Regions from separate parts of the Homo sapiens genome. Here region 1 is linked to region 2. Evidence: fine-mapped expression QTL. A gene starts in region 2. The other region holds a variant in brackets. All regions are shown on one strand. Distances are between the middles of the regions.

The links. PIP is the estimated chance that this variant, and not a neighbour inherited with it, causes the effect.
Region 1: its variant is fine-mapped to the expression of ENDOV in unexposed skin (GTEx, PIP 0.96).

Annotation. Positions count from the first base shown.
Region 1 is chr17:80,386,964-80,399,125 of GRCh38, reverse strand. It overlaps RNF213 (ring finger protein 213), which reads right to left. Exons shown (of 68, transcript NM_001256071.3): 64 at 10,437-10,514; 65 at 9,759-9,953; 66 at 9,209-9,298; 67 at 8,930-9,114; 68 at 332-5,781. The coding sequence ends at 5,628. The region is part of intron 1 of RNF213-AS1 (RNF213 antisense RNA 1); the gene reads left to right. Among named protein-coding and RNA genes, the nearest start is that of ENDOV, 22 kb to the left of the region's middle. RefSeq lists enhancers at 696-1,202, 1,203-1,710, 3,356-3,857. The variant A/T (reference allele first, on the strand shown) is at 7,031.
Region 2 is chr17:80,408,889-80,421,050 of GRCh38, reverse strand. It overlaps ENDOV (endonuclease V), which reads right to left and starts at 5,884. Exons shown (of 10, transcript NM_173627.5): 1 at 5,801-5,884; 2 at 5,230-5,401. The coding sequence starts at 5,856. It overlaps RNF213-AS1 (RNF213 antisense RNA 1), which reads left to right and starts at 5,883. Exons shown (of 2, transcript NR_029376.1): 1 at 5,883-6,122. It overlaps MIR4730 (microRNA 4730), which reads right to left and starts at 1,633; the gene lies at 1,558-1,633. RefSeq lists an enhancer at 5,362-5,451.

The DNA of each region.
Region 1 (12,162 bases), 22 kb after region 2:
TTAGGCTACTTCTGAACTGGTGAGGTGTGCTCACAATGAGGTTTCCTGTAAAAGTTATTTTTTTACTTTTTTCTGTTAGCAAAGCAGTTGCAGCTACAGATTGAATGCATTTGAGCCATCCACGGGTTACTGGGTTAAGGATTTTTGATGGGAAGGCCTCAGTGCTTTCGGGATATGCCCTTGTTTACACTGACAACAAAGTGGTATTGGAGTGTTACAGGGTTACAGAGAATACTTTCAATTATCAATTATAGGTTTTAAATTTATCTTGGCTTTTAAAGGAATAGGGTACAGTGTTGTTGTTGTTTCTAACTACTTGTATATATATCTCTTTTTTTCTTTTTTTCCTCTTGATTTTCTGTCTCTTTCTCTTTGACTTTCCTTTTGCCTCTGTCTCTTTCTCTCTCTCTCTCTGACTCCCTCTTTGTCTGTCTCTTCCTCTTTCTCTCTCTGCTGGTCTTTCCTTGCCTCTGCCAGCCACTTATGCTGCTGTTCTCTCAACCACTGTTGGGGCGGGCGGGTGGGGAGTCTAAAACCAGCTGTAACCAAGTGTCTGTGTACGGGAACTGGTGTGGGTACCCTGGCTTACAGGTTACCTTGTGCCATACCTTTGAAACAAGGGACCTGTCCAGGCTTCACTCTGATGGCCAACCTACCTCTAATGCTGGCCAGTCTATCTTACACAAAGTTTTAAGTTTTCCTGGTGTCATAGTACTCCATAGTCTCCCTTAAATCCTTTCCTGAAATTTTTCAGCATAGTTCCTAGTGGGGTGGTCTTACTTTGTGCTTGACCCATGCTTCTTCAAGACAAAACATTACGCTCACCCTACACGCATACCACAAAACAAAGAACAGGTAAAAAGGGCACACACACACTTTTACAGTTTACACCAAACCAAAATCAAAACCAAAATCAGAGTATCAGGATATCCAAGTCAGGTCAAAACCAAAACCAAAGTATCAAGCAATCCAAGTCAAGTCAAAAACAAAAACCAGAGTGCCAGTACAGGCACGCCGTGGGTGATCAGGCCACGCTTCCCCTCAAATGGAGTGGGCAAGTTCCAAAGACCAGTCTTACCAAGTTTCAGATGTCTGGACTCCAAGTGGCAGTTCCTTCCCGGTGTTCAGCCACTGCGTTGATCCTCCTCGGGGGCCTGCTACACACTGCTCTGGCCAGGCATTCCACTGGGGCAATTGCCTGCCTGAGAGCGCTCTCAGGATCCATGTCGCTCAAGCTGGCTGGAGTCCTCCACAGGGATGCTCCACAGGGCAGGCCTAAGCCGTCTGAGGGGCTGCCTCAACCATCCATTAATCACCTAGATTCCTGGTCAGGGAACCAAGAAATGTAGCAGGACAAGCTGCAGAGAAAACCCCTCAGACACGAGTTAAAGAAGGGCTTTATTCAGCCGGGCGCTTCGGCAAGACTCATGTCTCCAACAACTGAGCTCCCCGAGTGAGCAATTCCTGTCCCTTTTAAGGGCTCACAACTCTTAAGGGGTCTGCGTGAGAGGGTCGTGATTGATTGAGCAAGCAGGGGGTACGTGACTGGGGGCTGCATGCACCCGTAATTAGAACGGAACAGAACAGGACAGGGATTTTCACGGTGCTTTTCTATATAATGTCTGTAATCTATAGATAGCATCACTGATTAGGTCAGGCGTCGATCTTTAACTACCAGGCCCAGGGTGTGGTGCAGGCTGTCTGCTTGTGGATTTCATTTCTGCCTTTTAGTTTTTACTTCTCTCTTTGGAGGCAGAAATTGGGCGTAAGACAATATGTGGGGTGGTCTCCTCCCTTAAGAGCACTGACAGATATTTCACAGACGAGGAAACTGAAGCTTAGAGAGGTCGAGCCACTTGCCCATGGCTGTAGAACTGGCAAATGGGAGAGCCAGGACCCACATTCAGGCCTGTCTGGGCTGGGCTGTGTGTCAGCTTTGTTGGGTTCCAGAGTGGTCAGGGTGAAGGAGCCCTTGGATTTGGTAATTAGGAGTCACTCATGGACCTGTGGCGATGGGGCAAAGATCGTGGGTTCTGAGGAAGTGGCTGTCCTCTGGGTTGAGGTTCTGTTGCGCTTCAGGGCACAGGTAGCAGTGATCATGAAGGAATACTGGGGAAGGTAGGACCCTTATAGTAAGTTTAGGTGTGAGGGGAAGCACAGCAGGGCTGAAGGCGTTTTTTATGGGCTGTGGAGCACCTGAGCAGGGGCAGCCTGGTGGAGCACTTGCTGGACCCAGGGCCCCTCCAGTCTCTCCTGCTTCCCCCTGCTTTGGCCCCAGGTTGCTTTCGCATACACCCCCACCTCCTCAAAAGGGCTATCCCCAGCATATCCTGCAGAGAGGGTGATTAGGTGTGACTTCTGACCAAAGTTGCTCTGGTTGGGGGGGGGGGGTGGGGGGGAAATGCACTTTCCTGGCGCTTGTTTTTCCAGCTGGAAACGGGATTCGTAATGGTAATGGTTGAACTTAATGAACGTGATAGGATGAGAATAATGCAGAATGCAATATAAATGCTAATCATGGCTTGGATTGTTACTCAGCTCGAGGCTCAGGTTTTCTCCAGCCACCTCCCCAGTTATGCAACCTTCACACTTTATGTATCAAATCAGAGGTGTTTTCCTTCAGCACACTAGTGCCTGTGTGCATGGCTAGACTTGGGTGGCTTTACCTACTTGGCCCTGAGCTGACATTTTCTTCCCAATATTTATCACTGGAAGTTTGTTTCTAAATTGGAATTGCCTGAACATACAGGAGTAACTGAAATAGCTCAGGGCCGTCTCGGTTAACACATGCACAAAGTCTCATAACTATTCATGAAAGGCAAATAATTTGCACACACAATAAGGTCCTTATTTTATTTTTTTTTGAGACAGGGTCTCACTCTGTCACCCAGGTTGGAGTGCAGTGGTGCAATCATAGCTCACTGCAGCCTCAAACTCCCAGGCTCAAGCAATCCTCATACCTCAGCCTCCCAGGTAGCTGGGATTACAGGTGTGCACACCTAATTTTTTCAGTCAGGTCTCAAAGAGAAGGAGATAATGATCAGTTGTGAAGATTTTCAGGTAAATCACCACCAAGGTAGGGCTGAAAGCAGAAAGAACTCTGCAGCAGGGAACTGTCCAGGGAGGCGGGTATGAGTGGGAGTGAGGATGAATAAAGGGTTGGGAGGGGGAAGGTCAGGGTTGGTGATGAGGCATCCATGGCGGAAACGGGAACTGCAGGGTGAGGTGAGGCTGGCGCAGGGCAGACAAAGTGAGTCTTCCGGTGCAGGCCAGCATGCCTCCTCTTCTTGCTGTGGTTCTAGACCACAGGTTTCTCGCCTGGAAGAACCTTTCCTTTTTGGAAGAGAAAATGCAGTTTTCCCCCTGAAGGGGCATTTTTAGCACTCCAACGTCAGTGGGCTCCTGGAAGGGTTACTGTTTATCTCTTACCCCGCAAGTGGACTCAGGGGTGAAGTTAGTTAGCTCCTACCTGTACCCCGTTAGCTGCAGCCCCGCTGTGTCCAGTGAAGTCATTTCAGGCAGGGCATGGGGGACTCCTTCTGAGGCAGAGGTGTAAGCGTTTCAGTCCCAGATCGGCTACAGGGAGTGGCGCTCAGCTCCACTGTGGAGTCGCCAGGATGCTGTCATTTTGTCCAGAGGAAAAGTCCACCGTCTCACATGTGAAGGCAGAGCCTGTTTTCTGTGTGCACAGTCTGAACACACTACTTCATGGGTGCTTCTAAAGGACATTTCCACAAAGAACACAAACGATTCCCAAAAGCCTAGCTGATGTCTATGTGCCATAAATAGAAGCTCTGCCCCCAGAGAGAAGAGTTCTTTAGCAGCAAAACTCCAGTTTATTAAGACAGGTGTGACAAGTAAAATAAAATTCATTTTTTTTTTTTTTGCCTCTGCTAGGCCAGTATATTTCTGTACAAACAAGATAATGCAAGATTTGACAGTTAAGGCTTTGAAGCACAGCACACAAAATGAAACAATTTAAAACCCCTTCATAAAAATGGGAAAAATTCCCAGGCCAAAGGAAAAAAAAAGCCTTCACAGAAAGAGACTGACACTCGACTCCCCCCCTGCTGAGGTGTGGCCAGTGAGTCTGGGTGTGAGCTGCCACCTGACAGCCAGCTCTGAGGTATCAAAGGAGCTCCGAGTGCAAGTTGAAGACTTCAGCAAGCCAGCCCCCGGCCCCCACACCCGTTCATAGGCAGTCGGAATGCAGATCTCGGTGGCAGGTGGCTCTGCACAGTCCAGAGTGATAAAACAATCACAGATGACTAAATGCCAGGGACTGTGTGAAGTCAGTTACTGCCTGCAGTCTGGGTCACTCTGCCCTTCATCAGACACTGGTGGCACCATGACAGTGAGGAGAACGGAGCACAGTTCCTTCCGTGCCTCCTGCCGGCGCTGCTCAAGGTGTGCATGGCTGAGTCCTGGACAAGCATTTTGTATTTTTGTAGTTCTCACTCCTTAGGCCCAATTTCAAGTTAAGTCGTTAACTCATTTAGAATGAATATTAAGGATACTGCCTCTAACATATCAATAGCTGTGCTGAGCTGTCTAGGAAGAGAAATTAGTCCAGAGAGGTCCTAAGTATCAAAGCAGATTTTGTAAAGAAAAAAGGCAACACGTCAGTGAGAAAAGCAGCACAAGATCCGGGCTCGGGGACTCTTTTCCCTCTTTCCGAAACATAACTGGTTTTGTATGTGCTCTGAGTCCTAGTTTTTATGTCTTGGCTGAGAACCACAGAAAGGACTAGATATTCATACATGCGAGAGCACACTGAGACTGCATGTTTATTTGGCATAATGCTAGAAAAAAGTCCGCAAAGAACTGCCAGAACCAGGCCTGTGACCAAGTTTACAGTCATCTAGTTTCTCTCACAATTTCAAAATGTCAGATCAGAAGAATCTTTGGCGATTAATCCACTCTCCATTTTATGCGTGAGAAAACCAAGGCCCTGATGGTGTCCCTGGTCCAAGTCCAGTGCCTTTCACAATGAGGCTTTTGGCTCTTACCCTCTGAAGTGGGGCAGTGGCTCACTGTGAGGGGAGAGGGTCAGATCTTGTTAGTTTGATCTTAAGGCACTCACAAAATGCCCTGATTTTTCTTGTCTTTGTGAGAAGACAAAAAACAGTCTGGTAGTTTTTCACATCATCGTGGGAACCCAGAAATATATGTACAGTACTCAGAATTTAAGGGAATGGAAGAAAGAAGAAAATGAGATTCTCTTTTGTGAGTACAGAATTAGAAGAAAAAAAAAAAGAGGGGTGGGCAGTGCCAGAGGCGAACGGGCACAGGTCATTACTGCGTGTGTGGCTGAGCTACAAGTCTCCTGGAATGTAAACAATGTTGGTTTATTTCCAATTTCATCTAATCTTCATTGTCATCTCTCAATGAACAGTACTCATAAAATGATGAGAAAGTTTCAGAACATGTATGTACATGGTTCAGAAACAGCTCGGCTTTCAAAAAGCTGTCAGCTCAGGTAGCACGCCTTGGTCTTGAATTCGGTGCTACGCTGACAGCTCTCCTTCTGAATGCAAAGGCACCAGTCCATGATCAAGTCCACGCCGCAGACGAGGAGAGAGGAGTCTTCTCTCCAAAGTCATCCAAAGATAGCTGAGGAAATAATTCTATCTCATTTCTCGATTCCATTTCAGCACAGCAGCTGTTTTCCACACTGAGACACAGCTGGCGAGCAGTATCTCTTCTGGGAACTGAGATGCCATTTCAGGAAGAATTTCACTTTCTTTAGTTTGCATGTAACTTACGAGAGTGTCTCTCAGGCTGAAAAACCAAAGAAGAGAGCATTTAAAACAGTCTCCTCAGCATGGTGGCTCACGTGTGTAAGCCCAGCACTGTGTGGCTCACGTGTGTAAGCCCAGCACTGTGGGAGGCTGAGGTGGGTGGGTCAGTGGAGGTCAGGAGTTCAAGACCAGCCTGGGCAACATGGCGAAACCCTGTCTCTAGCAAAAATACAAAAATTAGCTGGGCACGTGGTGGTGTATGCCTATAGTCCGAAGCTACTCAGGAGGCTGAGGTGGGAGGACCACTTGAGTCCAGGAGGTGGAGGCTACAGCGAGCTGAGATTGCACAACTGCACTCCAGCCTGGGCCACAGTGAGATCCTGTCTCAAAAAAAAAGGCTCCCATATAACATAAGGGGACCAATCAGTCCCCTCATGTTACTTTTTCCCGTTGTCATCAGCAGAACCAAAATGCTCGTTAAGACTTAAAATCCTAGGCCAGGCGCAGTGGCTCACGCCTATAATCCTAGCACTTTGGGAGGCTGAGGCAGGTGGATCACTTGAAGTCAGGAGTTCGAGACCAGCCTAGCCAACATGGAGAAACCCTGTCTCTAGTAAAAATACAAAAATTAGCCAGGCATGGCGGTGGGTGCCTGTAATCCCAGCTACTCGGGAGGCTGAGGCAGGAAAATCACTTGAACCCAGGAGGTGGAGCTTGCAGTGAGCCGAGATTGCACCACTGCACTCCAGCCTGGGCGACAGAGCGAGAAAAAAAAAAAACCCAGAAATCCTGAGGAGCAGTTTAAGGTCAATGACCTGAGCTCCTGAACTGGGACTAGCATCCTGGGTTCAAGGCTCTGGTGCCTGACTGCTGCTTCCCACATGCAGTACACAAACACGACAGAAGCCCACGGAGCAAGCCCTGTGCTGGCCCCTTCACATGACTTTAGGCCCTCTAGCAAGGTGATGTTTATTTACAGGGTTGCATAAACAAGGCCTCACCATTCAAAAAACCTTGTATTCTATTACATGTTTCACATTAACAAAGACTGGAAATTCTCTAGGAAAGGGATCTTTTTTATCTACATGAAAAGCACAGGCTAGTAAAGACTTGTTGAAAAAGTTGAAAGAACATAAATGTATATGGTATATGCCACATAGCATAATGGAGGAAGATAGCAAATAGGAAACATATTGGTGAGGAAGACTGGAGTTTGATGATCTAGTCAGGAAAACATCAAGTTAAATCCTTACTTTACACCTAAACATAAACTGGTGAATAAAACAAGT[A/T]TGTGAAAGCACAAGAAGAGAGAGGACAGGCCGGGCGCAGTGGCTCACGCCTGTAATCCTAGCACTTTGGGAGGCCGAGACGGGCAGATCACTTGAGGTCAGGAGATCGAGACCAGCCTGGTCAACATGGTGAAACCCGTCTCTACTAAAAGTACAAAAAAATTAGCCGGGCAGGTGCATGCCTGTAGTCCCAGCTACTCGGGAGGCTGAGGCAGGAGAATCGCTTGAACCCAGGAGGCAGAGGTTGCAGTGAGCTAAGATGACACCATTGCACTCTAGCCTGGATGACACAGCAAGACTCCATCTCAAAAAAAAAAAAAAAAAAAAAAAAAAAAGGCTAGTTTATAATCCTGGGATAAGGAAGATCCTAGTAAGTGTTTTTGTATAGAGACCCTTTATAGGAAAATTCTGTCAGATTTGACTTCATAAAATTAAAGGCTGAAATAGAGCACTGTGGCACACGGCAGAGAAGATGAACCCCTGTTCTATGCAAAGAGCTCTCACAACCATTACAGAGACAAAGCGCAAAAGAAAAAGATACGAAGAGGTAATTTAGGCTGGGTGTGGTGGCCAAAGCTTGTGAATCACTTGAGGTCAGGAGCTCGAGACCAGCCTGGCCACGTGGAGAAACCCCGTCTCTGTACTAAAATAGAAAAAATTAGCTGGGCGTGATGGTTGGCACCTGTAATCCCAGCTACTAGGGAGGCTAAGGCAGGAGAATCGATTGAACCCAGAAGGCAGCGGTTGCACTAAGCCAAGATTGCGCCACTGCACTCCAGCTTGGGTGGGAGTGAGACACGGTCTCAAAAAATAAAACATAAAGGCAATTCAGAGGATGATATACAAATGGGTGATAAATATAAAAAACATGTTCAGCCTCACGGTAAATGGGGAAATACAACTGAAAATGAGATACCATTTTGGCCTTTAGATTGGCAACTATGTAAAAGATGGATAATATCCAATGTTGAGTATTCTCATACACTCTTTATACATTGGTATAGCTTTTTCTATTCTTTTTTTTGTTTGTTTTTGAGATGAAGTCTCCCTCTGTTGCCCAGGCTGGAGTGCAGTGGTGCGATCTCAGCTCACTGCAATCTCCACCTCCCAGGTTAAAGCAATTCTCCTGCCTCAGCCTCCTGAGTAGGTGGGACTGCAGGTGTGTACCACCATGCCTGGCTAATTTTTGTATTTTTAGTAGAAACAGAGTTTCACCAGTTGGCCAGGCTGGTCTTGAACTCCTGACCTCAGGTGATCCACCCACCTCGGCCTCCCAAAGTGCTGGGATTACAGGGTAAGCCTCCACACCCGGCCTAGGATAGCTTTTTCTATCAAATTTAAAATGTACCTCTCTTTGACATAGTCTACTTGTTATAAAATTAGAATATATGACTTTTAGGCTGGGTGTAGTGGCTCACGCCTTTTCATTCTAGCACTTTGAGAGGCCAAAGCGGGCAGATCATTTCAGGCCAGGAGTTCGAGACCAGCCTGGCCAACACAGTGAAACTCTGTCTCTACTAAAAATACAAAAATTAGCCAGGCATGGTGGTACACGCCTGTAGTCCCAGCTATTTGGGAAGCTGAGGCATGAGACTCGCTTGAACCTGGGAGGCAGAGGTTGCAGTGAGCCAAGGTTGCAGTGAGTTGAGATTACTCCACTGCACTCCAGCCTGGGTAACAGGGCAAGACTCTTGTCTGAAAAACACTTGTGTAATTGCTTAAAGAAAACCCAGTAGAGATTAAAACCAAAAAGCCAGTCCTCAGGTGCCCTGGTAATGACAAAAAGCAGGAAATGGGATTCTGTGGTAAGAAAAGAACTATTTTTGTGTCTATAGAAGATCACAGGAGAGACAGCACAACATTGTGTCTGCCCCGCCCCATAGGTGTGCAAATCCATACCTCCACTGAGGGCGGAAGCGCTCCTCGGTTTGGGTTTGGGGGTTCTTTAGTTTCAAGATTATCATTTCGTGCAGCTCTAGCAGGAAGGCGTCTAGGCCAGTCTGATTTAGGAATGTGCTGAGGAGCTTAGCATTTTCCGGGCTCAGATCCGCTTTGTACCTTGAACTGATTTCCCCAAATGGCTCCTAAAACGACGGAAGAGCAAATGAAGCATTAAAGCCTGCAGGGAGAAGGGAGCGCAGTCCCTCTGTCCAGCAGAGAGGAAGAGACCAGACTTACTTTGTGCAGCCGCAGCAGCTGTTCAGACTTATGAGCAGACAGGAACTGCCAGAGGGCAATGGTGTGTTTTAACTGGCATCTGTTTAAGGCCTGCAGAAGGAATAGAATTCCTGAGTGGGGGCTGAGGTCTCACACCCCCACTCATGTCGTGCACCAGGGAGCCTGAGTGCTCTCCACACAGGCATTCTTCTCTTCGTTCTGCCCTGTACTAATGTGATCTCCCTCCTTGTGAAGGCCATCTCTGTCCTATCTACCAGTTCCCTCCTGCGGCACCTCACAGCCCGCTCACATCACGCTGTTTGCAGGGGCCTCATGTACTCAGTCACATTTGGGCTCTATCTAGACTGCTGGCATTTCTAGCGCGTGTCTGTCTCTACTGTCCCTGGTGTGTCCTGTTTATGCTGGACTGACTGGGTGAGCAGTTGTTCTTGTCTCCCCATCCTTTTCAGGAGCGCCTAGAGTGGCACTCCCTGAATGCTCCTATCCCTCGCGGGAAGCAGGAGACCAGGGTGAGGGGCTGTGCTGATTTCCTTTTCGGTGTGAGACCCACCTTTAACACGTGAATCGTCTGATCACCCATTTGCAGGATGTCTTGAGTATACACATTCAGCTGCATGTTTGGATCCCCACCAGCTGTGCTCAGAAACCCCAGAGTGACTTCTACGACAGACAGCACTTCACAGGCATCGCTGTAGGACTGCAGCTGTCCACTGATGGCACTAATGACCGAGCTGGGGAGGGAGTCCTGGGAAATGAAAAGCAGGAGAGGGATGTCTGTGGGCTGGGTTTCTGGCATCTCACCACCTGGTAAGAGAGCCGAGCCCCTTCACTGCCCAAGCCACATGCGGGGGGCCAACTCTCTAACAGCTGACACTTGGGCGCACGGTGTGCAGGCAGTTCCTGGAGGCCATGGAGACACACAGGTCTACCTATCAGTACCCGCATGCGGAGAGCAGGAACAAATCGGTTCCATGGACTTCCCGCTTCAGCAGGCATGGCCATGCATCAACATCATTCCTAAGAATCAAACCCACAAGATGTCAATCTGCTTTTACTCTACAAGAAAACTTGCTGATTTGCTGTCTTGCTTGCTCTCTGTAAGGGAGGCCGCAGAAACTGTGGGCTCACAGCAAACACCCGGGGCAAGGCTGGAGTAGGCCTAACACGGAGGGAAACACACTGAGAAGGCAGAAAGCCCCGTGCACAGGATCAGGTTTATCGGGATCACCTGTGCCATTTTGTTCTTGATGTCCATAAAGAGATGTTCATAGTTCCAGTCGTGTCTGTACACCAGAGTGGGTATTCCCTAAATTGGGAAAGAAAAAAGTTTTTTAAAATTAAATCCATCGTGGACATTTCCAGCAGATGACAAACAGAATCTGCAGCCGGAAAACTGCAGCGTAGTGCCGCGCTGCCCTGTGTATCCCTTGGCTAAGAGCGCCCCTCTCCGTCATTAACCCACCATCTATGGAAATAGTAACACAACCGGGAATCCAGCGGAGTCCTCACAGCCAATTACATGACAAGATATTGTCACATCATCGTGGCCTGCTTCGCCACAGGAGGCGCTAGGGCAACAGGTATTTGTGCATATCCCATTCATTTATTCATTCAGCCACTAAAGGCACAGACCATGCACAGGCAGTCACTCTGCCAGAGGAAATGGCTGTGAGAATGAATTAAAAACAGCCTTTGGGAGGCAGAGACGGGCAGATCACGAAGTCAAGAGATCGAGACCATCCTGGCTAACATGGTGAAACCCCGTCTCTACTAAAAATACAAAAAAATTAGCCGGGCATGGTGGCGGGCGCCTGTAGTCCCAGCTACTCGGGAGGCTGCGGCAGGAGAATGGCATGAGTGAACCCGGGAGGTGGAGCTTGCAGCAAGCTGAGATTGCGCCACTGCAATCCAGCCTGGGTGACAGAGCGAGACTCCGTCTCAAAAAAAAAAAAAAAAAAAAAAAATCCATGGGCTCTCACAGTTCCTGGCCCAGTTGCGGGTGGTACCGTACATAAGTACAGTAGATATGACTGCAGCTGGAAGGAACAAGTGCGTCCAGTCAAAGAACAGAGATGGGAAAGTGCCTGCTGTGTGGCTTCAGTGCATGAGGTCACGGGATGCAGTTCAGGGAAATGGGCTAAGTGGCTGGAGGCAGGGCTGGAAGGTTGGGCTGGGCCGAGCTACAGGGCCTCCCATACCAGACAACAGAGTGTCGGCTTTATCCCATATGCCATGAGAGGCCAGGCAGGTCCATCCGGCACAGGATGAAGAGAGCCAGATGTGGGTTTTAGGCCGTGGACTGAAGAACCTGGAGGTGGGCACCAGTTAGGAGTGGCTAGCAGTCCAACGTACAGGATGCTTTTAACTACAGGGTGGGCTTTGGCAGTCAGGTGAGGACACACAGAAGGCACAGCTAATGGCATCTGCTGGCAGGTTACCCATGGAGGCTGAAGGAAGAGGGGCTGTGGGGGTGGTGGTGCCATTAACTGGTAGAATCAAGACCTCAACAATCAGCTGGGTGCAGTGGCTCACGCCTATAATCCCAGCACTTTGGGAGGCCTAGGCGGGTGGATCCCTTGATCCCAAGAGTTCGAGACCAGCCGGGCAACGTGGTGAAGCCCCATCTCTACCAAAAAATACACAAATTAGCTGGGCATGGTGGTGCACACTTGTGATCTCAGCTATTTGGGAAGCTGATGTGAGAGGATCGCTTGAGCCCAGAGGTGGAGGCTTGGCACCACTGCCCTGCAGCCTCGGTGACAGAGTGAGACCCTGTTTCAAAAAAAGACCTCAACAGTTCCTTGGGGGACTGAGGTGCAGATGGCCCTGCAGGAGAGGGCTCAGGAGAGCCCTGCGGCCCGGAGATACAGGTGGCGTGGTGGCCTCGGGAGCTGCAGGTGTGAGGGAGGAGATACAGACCAGACTGCAGGGTGAGGTGCTGCTTCCCTCTCTCG
Region 2 (12,162 bases):
TCCTTTGTGTATTGAAGCCGATGCCCCACCCCACCCCTCCATGGGTTGTTGGAGGCTTAAAGAAGACACAGTGTTGGCCAGGCGTGGTGGCTCACGCCTGTAATCCCAGCACTTTGGGAGGCCGAGGCGGACGATCACCTGAGGTTGGGAGTTCAAGACCAGCCTGACCAACATGGAGAAACCCCGTGTTTACTAAAAATACAAAATTATCTGGGCGTGGTGGCGCATGCCTGTAATCCCAGCTACTCGGGAGGCTGAGGCAGGAGAACTGCTTGAACCCAGGAGGCAGAGGCTGCAGTTTAGAGCACAACATGGCAGGCCTGAGTCTCCTAACCTTGTGTTTTCCTTAGTCACACTGCCCTTAATGTGAAGACGTTTCCCACTATGTCCACATTCTGCAGACCTGTCTACCTTCCTGCAGTTTTGTTACTGAATCCCCCAAATCTCTTGGTGACAGCTTTCAAATCACAACTTCCACTCCTCACTTGTGGCTGGATCAATAATTAAACACACCAAAGCAGACGGAGTGCTCTGTATTAGCACAGAGGGTTGGGGATCATTCTCACAACATCTTCATCAATGACTCAATGGGGAAACTGATCAAATCTGCCCATGACCCAAAGTGGGGAGGGTCCATTCTGATAACAGAATTTGGGTTCACAGAGAAGCCAGCAGGCTGGATCACTGACATCCCCACAGAGTAAAAGTCACTTTGCACAGTGACATGTGGAATTCAAGTGTGGCCTGAGTTCCCACAGGAGGGGCGTGGCTGCTTACATCTGAATCTCTCCCATAATGTTATCATTCAGGTGACATTATGGGATGACTATGATGTGTAATCAGTATGATAATGACACTGTGGCTGTGGAGGAGAATGTCATTCTCAGGACAGGCCTGCTGATGTCTTCTGAGCTGTCACAGTCGCTGGGATGTACGGTACACACGCACACAAAGAGCGCATGTGCGCGAGAGAGAATATTCCAGAGCAGCAACAGCTGAACCTAAGTAGAAGGAATACAGGTGTCCAACGTATCCTTTTCCAATTTGGGGGGATGTATGTACATTTTCAAATTAAAAATCTGGGAAAAGAAAAATCACTGTATGATTAGCGTAGGGGGCAGGTCTGGATGACCAGCAATCTCAACATAAGCCAGTGACCTGGTGCCCCTCAAAAGCTACCAGTGTTTCCAGCTACACCGACTGAAATGGCGTGGGTGACAGTTAGGTCTAGGGACTTGGGTAGACCACATCCAAGTTCCTGCATTTGATTCTGAGTGCAGACGGAAAGATGGATTGTGTGAACGGAGGGCATGACCAGAGGGCCACTGACCAGTGAAGAAGCTGGACGTCATCGCAGCCTCTTGGGACAGTGTGGTCAAGGAGCAGGCAGCTGTTTCCAGCAGCAGAAGGGCTGACAAGCAGAAGGCAGGGAAGATCCGTTCTGTTTTGCTACCTGAAGGCAGAACTGATCGATGGGAGTCACAGACAAGTAGGAGTCAGCTCCCTGCGGAGCAGAACACACTAGCCATTGCTCAGCGTCCAGCACACAACAGGCTCCACCAGGCCTGTGGAGCAGCACACACCAGCCATCGCTCAGCATCTGGCATGGAATGGGCTCCGCCAGAGGCCTGCGGAGCAGCACACACCAGCCATGGCTCAGCATCTGGCACAGAACGGGCTCCGCCATCGTTTGTCAGGGATGCTAAGGACAGTGTTCTTCACGGTGGGAAAAGCAGGCCAGTGGTTCTCCAGCCCAGCTCTGCTTCAGAATCACAGGAAAGCTTATTTTAAAAAGCAGATTCTTATGCTATACTCTGGGAGAGTTTTTCCCCCAGTAAGTGGGGTAGGGCTCTGGAATCTGTTTTTTTTTTTTTTTTTTTGACAGAGTCCTGCTCTGTTGCTCAGGCTGGAGTGCACTGACGCGATCTCGGCTCACTGCAAGCTCCGCCTCCCAGGTTCACGCCATTCTCCTGCCTCAGCCTCCCGAGTAGCTGGGACTACAGGTGCCCGCCACCATGCCCGGCTGATTTTTTTTGTATTTTTAGTAGACACAGGGTTTCACCGTGTTAGCCAGGATGGTCTCGATCGCCTGACCTCGTGATCCAGCCGCCTCAGCCTCCCAAAGTGCTGGGATTACAGGCATGAACCACTGCGCCCGGCCTGTTTTTTTTCCTAACAGGTTTACTGAGATACAATTAACATACCATAAAGTTCACTTGTTTAAAACATATAATGCGATGGTTTTGGTATTTACAGAGTTGTGCAATATCACTACAATCTAACTTTAGAACATTTTCCTTAACCCCTAAATAAACCTCATCCTCATCAGCAGTCACTTCCCATCCATCCCACCCCAACTCCAAGGCCCAAGGATCCACTTTCTGTCTCTGTGGATGTGCCTACGGAATCTGTTTCTCAACACACTTCTGGGTGATTCTGCTCCTGCAGGTCCACGGTCGGGCATTCAGGAACCAGTGGACCAGACTGTTCCAAGATCCTTTCCTAGTCTAAGCTTTCATAGCCGGAACAATGAATACCGACGAAGTAGCAGGTGCTTTGCTTGGTGCTGGGGTTGTAAAAGAAATATGGTACACCCTACTCTTGAGAACCTACAGTCAGTGGGAAAAATGGAATCATAAATGACTAACTTTAATACAATGTGAGAAGCGCTCTAACAGCATGTGCATTCAAAAGAGGCCCAGGATGCAGATGAGGTGATTAATTTGCAGCCAGGAGAAGTTGGAGGGGGAAGGGAATGCTGTGTTAACTGCTTTCCATGCATTTCATGTACTGCTCATCACAATTCTGTGAGCTGGATATTAATACCACTATCATCCTCAAGTCAGAAAAAAGGAGACAGAGGCCTAGAGGGCAAAGTGGGGAGTGGCAGAGTTGGGTGTGAGCATGAGTAGTCAGGACCCTAAGACTGTGTCCCCACTCCCTATGCTAGCCTACACAATGGCCAGGGGACCTCTTAGAGTAGGGGCTGCTGAATATCCCAATCTTAGCACACAGTAGGCACTCAGTACATTTTTGCTTGATTTGGACTGAAAAGGGCCTCCCAAGTAAAGCACAAAGCCATGGAAGCAGGAAGACGTTTGTCACCTTCGGGAGTCAGCAGAGGAGCAATGCGAGTGACGCCAAGAGGCTTCCGGAGCTGTTGACTCTTATGTGAATCATGAGCCCACTGTCCATTCACACACGTATCTCTTGAAGGAAGAGTCCAGCGTCTTCCTCATGCTATCCATGGTGGGCAAAGCAACATGGTTTCTACCATCATGGAGTTTATATTCCAGTAGGGAAGACAGGCCAGTTCCATCCCAGCAAGACAAGAGGAAGCAGAGGGTTGCTACGGTCTAAATGCTGGTGTCCTCCCCAAATTCCTATGTTGAAATTATAACCCATAGGTGATGGTATTACGAGGTGGGGCCTCTAGGGAGGTGAGTGGATCACCATGTGAGAACACGGTTAAGAAGCTGGCCCTGTGCAACCTGAAAGAGCGCCGTCACCACAACCTGATTGCGCTGGCACCCTGATCTTGAGCCTCCAGCCTCCAGAACTGTGAGAAATAAATTCCTGCTGTGGGTAGGCCACCCAGTCTAAGGTATTCTATTACAGCAGCCCAAACGGACTAAGACATGGTGCTGAGGGACAAGTCCTCGTCTTGTGGGATGAGAGGGAGCTTAGTGGAGGACGTCATGTCTAAACTGAGCCCAAAGAGATGAGTAGTAGTTAGCCAGATGGAAACCCTTCCAGAAGAAACATTACTGCAAAGGTCAGGCCGCCAAATACAGCGTAGCAAACACGTGAGGGACTCACAGTGGGCTGTAGGAGGTGGGAAGAACTGAGAATAGTGGTGAGGGCTGAGCCTCCAGCGTCATATTAAATTACGCAGGGGACAGGTCATGACGGGCCTTGAAGCCATGCCAACCAGAGTGAACTTTATTCACCATGAGGTCATGAGAAGGGCACTTCAATGTTCTAAGAGGACTTGTGGGCTGGGTGTGGTGGTTCCCACCTGTAATCTCAGCACTTGGGGAGGCCAAGGTAGGAGGATCCCTTGAGCCCAGGAGCTGGAGACCACCCTGGGCAACATAGTGAGATCCTGTCTCTACAAAAAATAAAAAAATAAGCCGGGTGTAGTGGCTCACACCTGTGGTCCTAGCTACTCAGGCTAAGGTGGGAGGATCACTTGAGTCCAGGAGGTTGAGATCAGATCTTGACAGTGAGCCAAGATTATGCCACTGCACTTCAGCCTGGGCACAGAGTGGGGGAAGGGGAAAGGAAGGAAAGAGAGACAGAGAGAGGAAGGAAGGGAGGAAGGAAGGAAGGAAGGAAGGGAGGGAGGGAGGGAGGGAGGGGACTTGTTGCTTTTGAGGAAAATACTTGCTTTTTAGGAAAATTGGTCTGCTGGCAGTATGGAAAAGAAACCACTGAGGAGGAACATTTGAGCCAGGGCACCCATGAAAATGCTGCTCAGGAACCCACAGGAGTGATGGTGGCACAGCCAGGGAAGGAGCAGAGGGGAAACAGACAAGGGGACAGATTCCAGCGACATTTAAGAGGCAGAATAAAAGCGAGCTAGTGTGCAACTGGACGCGAGAGGAACGGAGGGGCCCAGGAGGATGCAGATCTCCAGCTTGGGCAACTGGGAGCGTGGTGGACAGGTCACTGAGATGAAGAACCCAAGATAACAATCAGACTTGAAGATAAAGCTCATGAGCTGATTCTTAATAGTCACAGAATTCCCTTAATTTTTGCCTTTTTTTCCCTTCCAAGACTCCCCAGACTTTTTTTTTTTTTTTTTTTTTTTGAGATGGAGTTTCGCTCTTGTTGCCGAGGCTGGAGTGCAATGGCGTGATGTTGGCTCACCGCAACCTCCGCCTCCCGGGTTCAAGCGATTCTCCCGCCTCAGCCTTCCGAGTAGCTGGGATTACAGGTATATGCCACCACACCCGTCTAATTTTGTATTTTTAGTAGAGACCGGGTTTCTCCATGTTGGTCAGGCTGGTCTCGAACTCCCGACCTCAGGTGATTCCCCCGCCTCAGCCTCCCAAAGTGCTGGGATTGCAGGCGTGAGCCACCGCGCCCGGCCAACTCCCCAGACTATTAATGACATCCTACAAAACGAGAAGCCGGGTTCTACGCTTGCACTGCTCCCTGTCCCGGAGACCGCACGCCCGAGCCCACCGAGGGGCCCGCCTCGAGCTCGGCGTCCTCCCAGGTTACCTCGAGCTCAGGGAAGCTGAGCACCACCAGGGAAGCACAAGCGCGGACACTGTCCCCTTTCACGAAGGACACGTCAACGCCCCCGACCCTCTGCAGACCCGAGAAGGCGGGGTCTCGCTGCCACGCCTCGGTGTCCCGGTCTACGACGTGGGCCTTCAGCCGAGCTTGCTCCCTAGGAGGACAGAAGCGTCAAACTTGGTCGGGGTCACACCTCAGACTCTGCCTCCTCCACCCGCGCGGCTGCAGCGGACAGAGCGCCTCTGCCGGGTCTTCTCCCGCTTCAAGGGAAAGCAAGGGACATACCGCCGAGGCCACAGTCCCTAGGAGCCCAGGCGGCGGAGACCCGCGCAAGCGCAGGCCAGACAAACTGGCCGGAAGCGAGAACCGCGCCCACCCCGCGGACTACAATTCCTGAGATCCCTCCGCTTCCGCGCCGGAAACTGGGCTTTGCTTTGGAGTCTCGGGCGGTGGCAGCTCCGATTCCACAGCCTGAAGACTATGAGCTCGGAGGGTCCGCGAAGGGCCGCCCGGCCTCGGCCCCCGCCTCCTGCGCGTCGCCTGACAGCATTACCGTTTCCACAGTGACAGCGTTTCCTCCGGCGGCCCTCCCGCCGCCTCCAGGGCCATGGCTTCGTCCCGGGCACCCCTTCCGCACGTCACTTCCGGAAGCGACTCGCTCTGACGCCGTCCGCCCTCGTTGCCATGGAGACGCTTGCGCTTTCCCGGGCCGCACTTCCCACCCGGGTCTTCAGAAGCCCGTGGCCGCTGGGTGAGCCCCTGCGTGAACGCACACGCACGCACACGGCTTCAGGTTGCCCCGCGGCGCCGCGCGCGATATCGGCTCGGATCCCGGGAGGCCGTCCGCCCCTTTTTCAGCGGATAGCTGAGGCCAGGTAAGTGACCGCGCGAGGACCCGGGAACTCCGTGACGCCCGTCCCGCCTCTGCTGTCCCCGCCGCAAGCGCTGCGCTCTGCACGGCGAGAGGGGCCTCTTGCCCTGTTGAGAGCCGGCGGGCACGGCACTTCTGCGCTTGGAAAAGGGTGGTCCAGCACTGCAGGTCCCACTCCTTGGCCCGGTCAGCGTCCGCCTTTGCTGAACCCCGAAAGGATTCACCAGGTCCAGGACAGCCCGGCAGTTGCCTCAGGAGCACTTACTGAGCGCCTGTCGTTGACGCCCCCACCTCGATGGCAGCTCAGGGGTGCCCTCAAGCTTTTGAGGGCAGGTGTCGTGTATTTAAATTCTTCACAGTTTAGCGGGCTGGACTCACGGGGGTGCTGCAGACTTGGACGGGGTTTCATCTGGGTCGGACCTTGCTGGGCAGAAAGCTTCTCCTACCAGACAAAGTACGGCGACCTTGGGGGGTCTTGGTTCTTACCTCGTGTTCCTCATTGAATGAGTGTTGGTTCAGTGCTCTCGCTGTGCCAGGTGTTGTGCGAAGTACTGTGAGGGAGAATATGTATTTATTTGTGGGGAGCCGACTTTAAACCGGTGGTTGGGAAAGGCCTGAGAGGCGATATTGAAGACACCTGAAGGGTGAGTGAAAGAGCACGGCGGGTGAGTGGAGCAGCTTTCTCGTGCAGGTCCCGGGGTGGGAAAGAGGTTGGTGTATTTGAAGCACTGAAAGGCAGCCACTGAAGCTGAAGTGTAGCAGTTTAACCCATGGTTTTATATTCTCCTGGGAGGATTCAGAAGGGTGTATGTGTGTATGTATATATAATAGCCTGAATATAAACGTCAAGGGTGTTAGGTTTTGAAGGGAAGGTGAAGGTTAAAGAATGACGCACAGTGAGATTGCCGGCGCGCGGGCGGCTCTACAGCAACACAGGTGTATTGCAAACACCTGTCGGGGGCCAGCTTAATGCCAGAGCCCACCAGCGATTACAGGCTGGGGTACTCATAGGCCTGGGCAGGAGGGATCTAGGCAGTATGGCTTGCTGTCCGGGAAGATGTTAACGTGTTCCCAGGATGAGGTGGTTCCGGCAGAATGTGGTGTTCCTGGCGCTTTGTCCCAGCAGAATATGTTAAGAGGCAGGCTGTTTCTCATGGCTCGAACCCCCGTGGAATGTTTCACTTTGACCAAGGTCTACAAAATGGAAAGGGGCTTACAAAATGACGCAGTTTGGACTAACAAAGGGGAAAATACAGAGGATGAAATTAGACTCTAGAGGTTGAGGCTCAGGAAAGGCTTCATACAGCTTTGGGAACTGACAAGGCTTTGAAAGCAGGGTCAGTTTTCAGCGAATGAGCGTCACCCACTGCACCCTGCGCACCCTGCTCCCCTGCTGCGGTGTCTTTCCCACCAGAGTGTAGCAGGACAAGCCGCAGACAAAACCCCTCAGACACCGAGTTAAAGAAGGGCTTTATTCAGCTGGGAGCTTCGGCAAGACTCACGTCTCCAACAACCGAGCTCCCCGAGTGAGCAATTCCTGTCCCTTTTAAGGGCTCACAACTCTTCAGGGGTCTGCGTGAGAGGGTCGTGATTGATTGAGCAAGCAGGGGGTACGTGACTGGGGGCTGCATGCACCCGTAATTAGAACGGAACAGAACAGGACAGGGATTTTCACGGTGCTTTTCTATATAACGTCTGTAATCTATAGATAGCATCACTGATTAGGTCAGGCGTCGATCTTTAACTACCAGGCCCAGGGTGTGGTGCAGGCTGTCTGCTTGTGGATTTCATTTCTGCCTTTTAGTTTTTACTTCTCTCTTTGGAGGCAGAAATTGGGCGTAAAACAATATGAGGGGTGGTCTCCCTTATTCTCCCTCTCTGAGAATCTCACTCAGTAGTGGGAGTTGTCACTTTTATTTTTACTACCTATGTTTTCTTGCAAGACAGATCGATAGTGATTCATATAGTACAGTTGTGCTGAAGCATTTTGGTGAACTAAGGTAGCGATGAAGCTTTTTATCATTTGAAGAAGTATGGGTAGCAAACAAGGGAGCAGAACGCAGGTTTCTATTGCTATTGTAACTCCTAATATAAGAGTTTTAAATCTTTTTAGTGCTGGGAACCATTTTCCAAACATGGCCCCAGGACCAAATCCATGCCACACTTGCACGGGCACATGTGCCAGTTTTGTCATATTTCTAACTGTGTCTTCAACTAATTGCCCTCGATCATCTATGTGTAGACAGCAATTAGTAAGGTTAAATTTTTTACAGACCTCTCCTTCAGCTGCTAGCAAGTAGTCGAGAGCCAATCTATTTTGATAGATAGCATTTCTCATCTGAGTTTCTTGCCAGGCCAGAATAGTCAAGGCTCTGCCGGTCTTATTAGTGATTATTTCTAAGACAGCTTGTAACCGTATGATTCGGTTGAGCATGTAAATGGGGGTCGGGTATCCCTAGGAGCCATCTTGTGCCTAAGTACCAGGCCCATAATATTGTATGATTCTTTCAGGGGGCCATGTATTATCTTTTGAATTTTTTATAGCTATGCTTCTCTTTTTGCGGGAAGCACAGACAGGGAAGCCCAGGAGTTCGCCTGTCTTTATGGGCAGTAGGAAGAAAGATGGTTTAATAGTGCCAATAACATGACTACCTGCCCACTGGTCGGGTAATTTGGTGTAAACTCTATGCCTACATATCCAGTATAATCCAGTGGGGGCTGTCCAGTCCCTGTGGGACTCCGGGTGGGTTCACACAGTTTGCAACTTTGGGAATTTACTAAATGGATTTTTCTTAGTGTGGTTTGAACTCCACTAGGTGGCTGTTTTTGTAGTAGTATTATACAGTTTTTGCCTAAGCAGCTGAGTCTTCCCACAGGAAAGGTGAAGTCCTTCCCCACTCTTGCTATATACAGTATTGTCTAATGATTGAGGCTTTTAGGACCCAGAAGTTATCAGGGTGATTCTTTTGAGCCGGGAATTCATCAGGAACTGGGTCTGTAGGTACTAATTCTCGGGCTTCCCGTGGCCATTGATCTCCCATTACAGTTCGTCCACACACATAACATGAAGTGACATTGAGAGACTGGGCCACATGCTCGGCTAATTGCAAAAACAAATGTCTTGTTTTTCCTGGAATTTCTGGTGCAGGCACATTCAGTTGATCATAGAAGGTTTGAAATACTGTCTCAGGAGAGCGTTTATAAATTTCTCCTCAAACCATGATATTTACTCAAGGATCCAGTTCAGCCCCATTGATTCCTAGGGTTACATGCTCCCCTTTTTTCCAGCGAGGATCAAGGGGGTTGGTTATTACTAGTTCTAAGGGGTTACACTGACCACTGGTACAGGAAGGGCCACTTTTTCCTTTTTGAAGGTGGACAGGATCCTTTTTATTTTTTATTTAAGTAGCCTAAATGACACAAGACCAGTATTTACATTTATTTCCACACAGTTTTAATTTATGACAAATGTACTTATTTTTTGTCATATGGCCTCTTTTCTAATTAAGGGAACCACATTCTATTTTTAACTTATTACTATTAATGACAGCACAGGCATCAAACTTTAAAGTGACTTGTTTGGGCACCCCTTTTTCTTTCATTTTGGCTAACACTTTACTCGTATCGTTTATGAGTCCCTACCAGTCCTCAGTCCTTAATCTTATTTCAAAAGCTGTGGTCATGGGAGACTCAGGTCATAACACACATCAGGTTGGTCATTTCTTGGGCTACATACCTTGCATAGAATAGCATTATACAAACTTTTTTTTTTTTTAGAGTCCTGGTACACTTACAATAATCATAAAATAATAGGACTGTGGCAACTTTTTGTCCTACCTCAGTGACTTGATGTATACACTGGGAACAGTCCTCAGTCTGAGGAAGGTCAGTTGAAGTCCTTACTGTACAAGTCCAAATTTTAAGGAAAATGAGTCCCACGATGAGTTTTCTCATGCTTCGGCCGTGTGTGGACCAGTCAGCTTCCAGTTGTGACTGGAGCAGGGCTTGTCGTCTTCCTCAGAGTCACTTTGCAGGGGCTGGCGAAGCTGCTTCCGTCCACGTACCACTCACAGCCTACTGATGTTCAAGGATGGTCTCGGAGGTTGCGCCTGCTAGAATAAACTGAGTCCAACACCTCTACACAGTTATGTTCAACTGGGCTCTCTCATATCAGGAGCAAGGTGGCGGGGTTTAGCGTGTTGCAAACTGCAGTGGTTATGTGGGGATTTTCACGTAGCAAGCTTTGGTACTTGGTTAATCTAGCATTTGTTAACCAGTGATGACCTTTGGTAGTCATTAAAGTTACCACAGCGTGGGGGGCCTTTATATTCAGGTTTTGTCCAAGGGTTAGTTTATCTGCTTCTTGTGCTAACAGGGCCGTTGCTGCCAGGGCCCTTAGACACGGGGGCCAGGCTTTGGAAACCCCGTCTAGTTGTTTTGAGAGATAGGCCACTGGCCTTAGCCAGGGTCCCACAGTCTGGGTTAAAACTCCAACTGCATTTTTTCTCTTTCTGACACATAGGGTGTAAAGGGTTTTGTCAGGTCTGATAGCCCCAGGGCTGGGGCCTACGTTTTTCTTTTAACTCATGAAAAGCTTGTTGCTGTTTGTTGTAATAGATGTAGTTTATCCAATTTACATTTTTATTAACTGTCATCTACCAAAATATTGACTCAAATCCTGCCGCTATTTGATTTCAAGTTTTAAATTGATCTAGTATTCCCCGTGGGACTCCAATTGCGTCTAAATGGAAATGAGAGTCGAAAGACCCATAAGGGGCTTCTCTTGCTTTACGATGTCTTATTTTTCCTCCCTCTGGTTGATGGAATGCCAGGGTGAAAGGGATAGCCAATCGGACTAAAGTACAAGCGCCACTCCAGTTATTCGGCAGAGTGCCCAGTAAAGGTCCACCACAATACCACCACACATCCGCTCACATCCACTCAGGGATGAACAAGGGCTGGCTGATTGATAGGCTCTTGAAAATTTTTAAGCTCACTGCATCCCTTCAGGTTTCCAAGGAATGCTAAGTTTCCTCCCTGTCATGAGAGACACGAAGTGAACTTAGTATTGGGAGACGGCGGCTCGATGGCCCTCGGGGGCTGACCCGCAAGGCGCCAGACTTTCGGATACAGCAGAGAGAGCTTGGCACAACTTATTACTCCAGGCTGTAGAATCCTGGAGAAGAGCTACCATGCAGCCACACCTGGTCGACTGGAGGACCACCTTAGTGGAAAGGGGACAATCAGGACCTCTGGCCTGCCATGTGCACAAGCGTAACAGTTGCTTTTGTTTAACGTGCGGATGGAATATTTGATCCATTTCAACCAGGCATTTGCATCTTGGTATGCTGTCTTAATTGCCAAAGTTTGTTTTAAGTCTTTAACTAATATGAACTTCTAGTAAAATGAATGTATGATTTTGGGAAATTACAAAAACTGGTTGGGGCAGTCCATTCTTGCTCTTTAGTGGTCCACAGAATGTTGGACCAACTACGGCATAAAAGCTCTACATTGGGGAGCAAGACTCCTGGTTGACACTGGAGTCTTTATTGAAATTCCCCCGGATTAAATGGTCCTAATTTACTAATGCCCAGTCTGAGGAGAGTCAGGAGGGACAGAAGTACTTTTCTGAAGTAGAGAGCTGTCTTCGACTTGGCAAGTCCCCACAGGGTATAACAAGACAAGCATTAAATGCAATAGTTTGAGGTGAAATTGATTTGGTTGTGTTAATAACCAGATGGTCAGCAATAGAGCGAGGAAAGAAGAAAGAGTAATAGAATAGATAAAAGAGTTAAATATTTCTTAGCTTTAGTTTGGTAGGGTTTTCCCCTTGGACTGGGGCCCACGACTCCGGAGGGGGTGGAGCTTTGACTCGGGTGTGATGAGTCCATCCCTTTTCCACTGTAGGGACAGCAGTCTCGGTGGTTAGCAGCACAAGGTCGGGTCCTTCCTAGGCTGGCTTGTTTTCTTTCCTCCCTTTGTTTTCTTTCTTTCCTTTGATAAGAAAAACTTTTCCTTTGAAAAATTTGTTTTCTTTCCTCCCT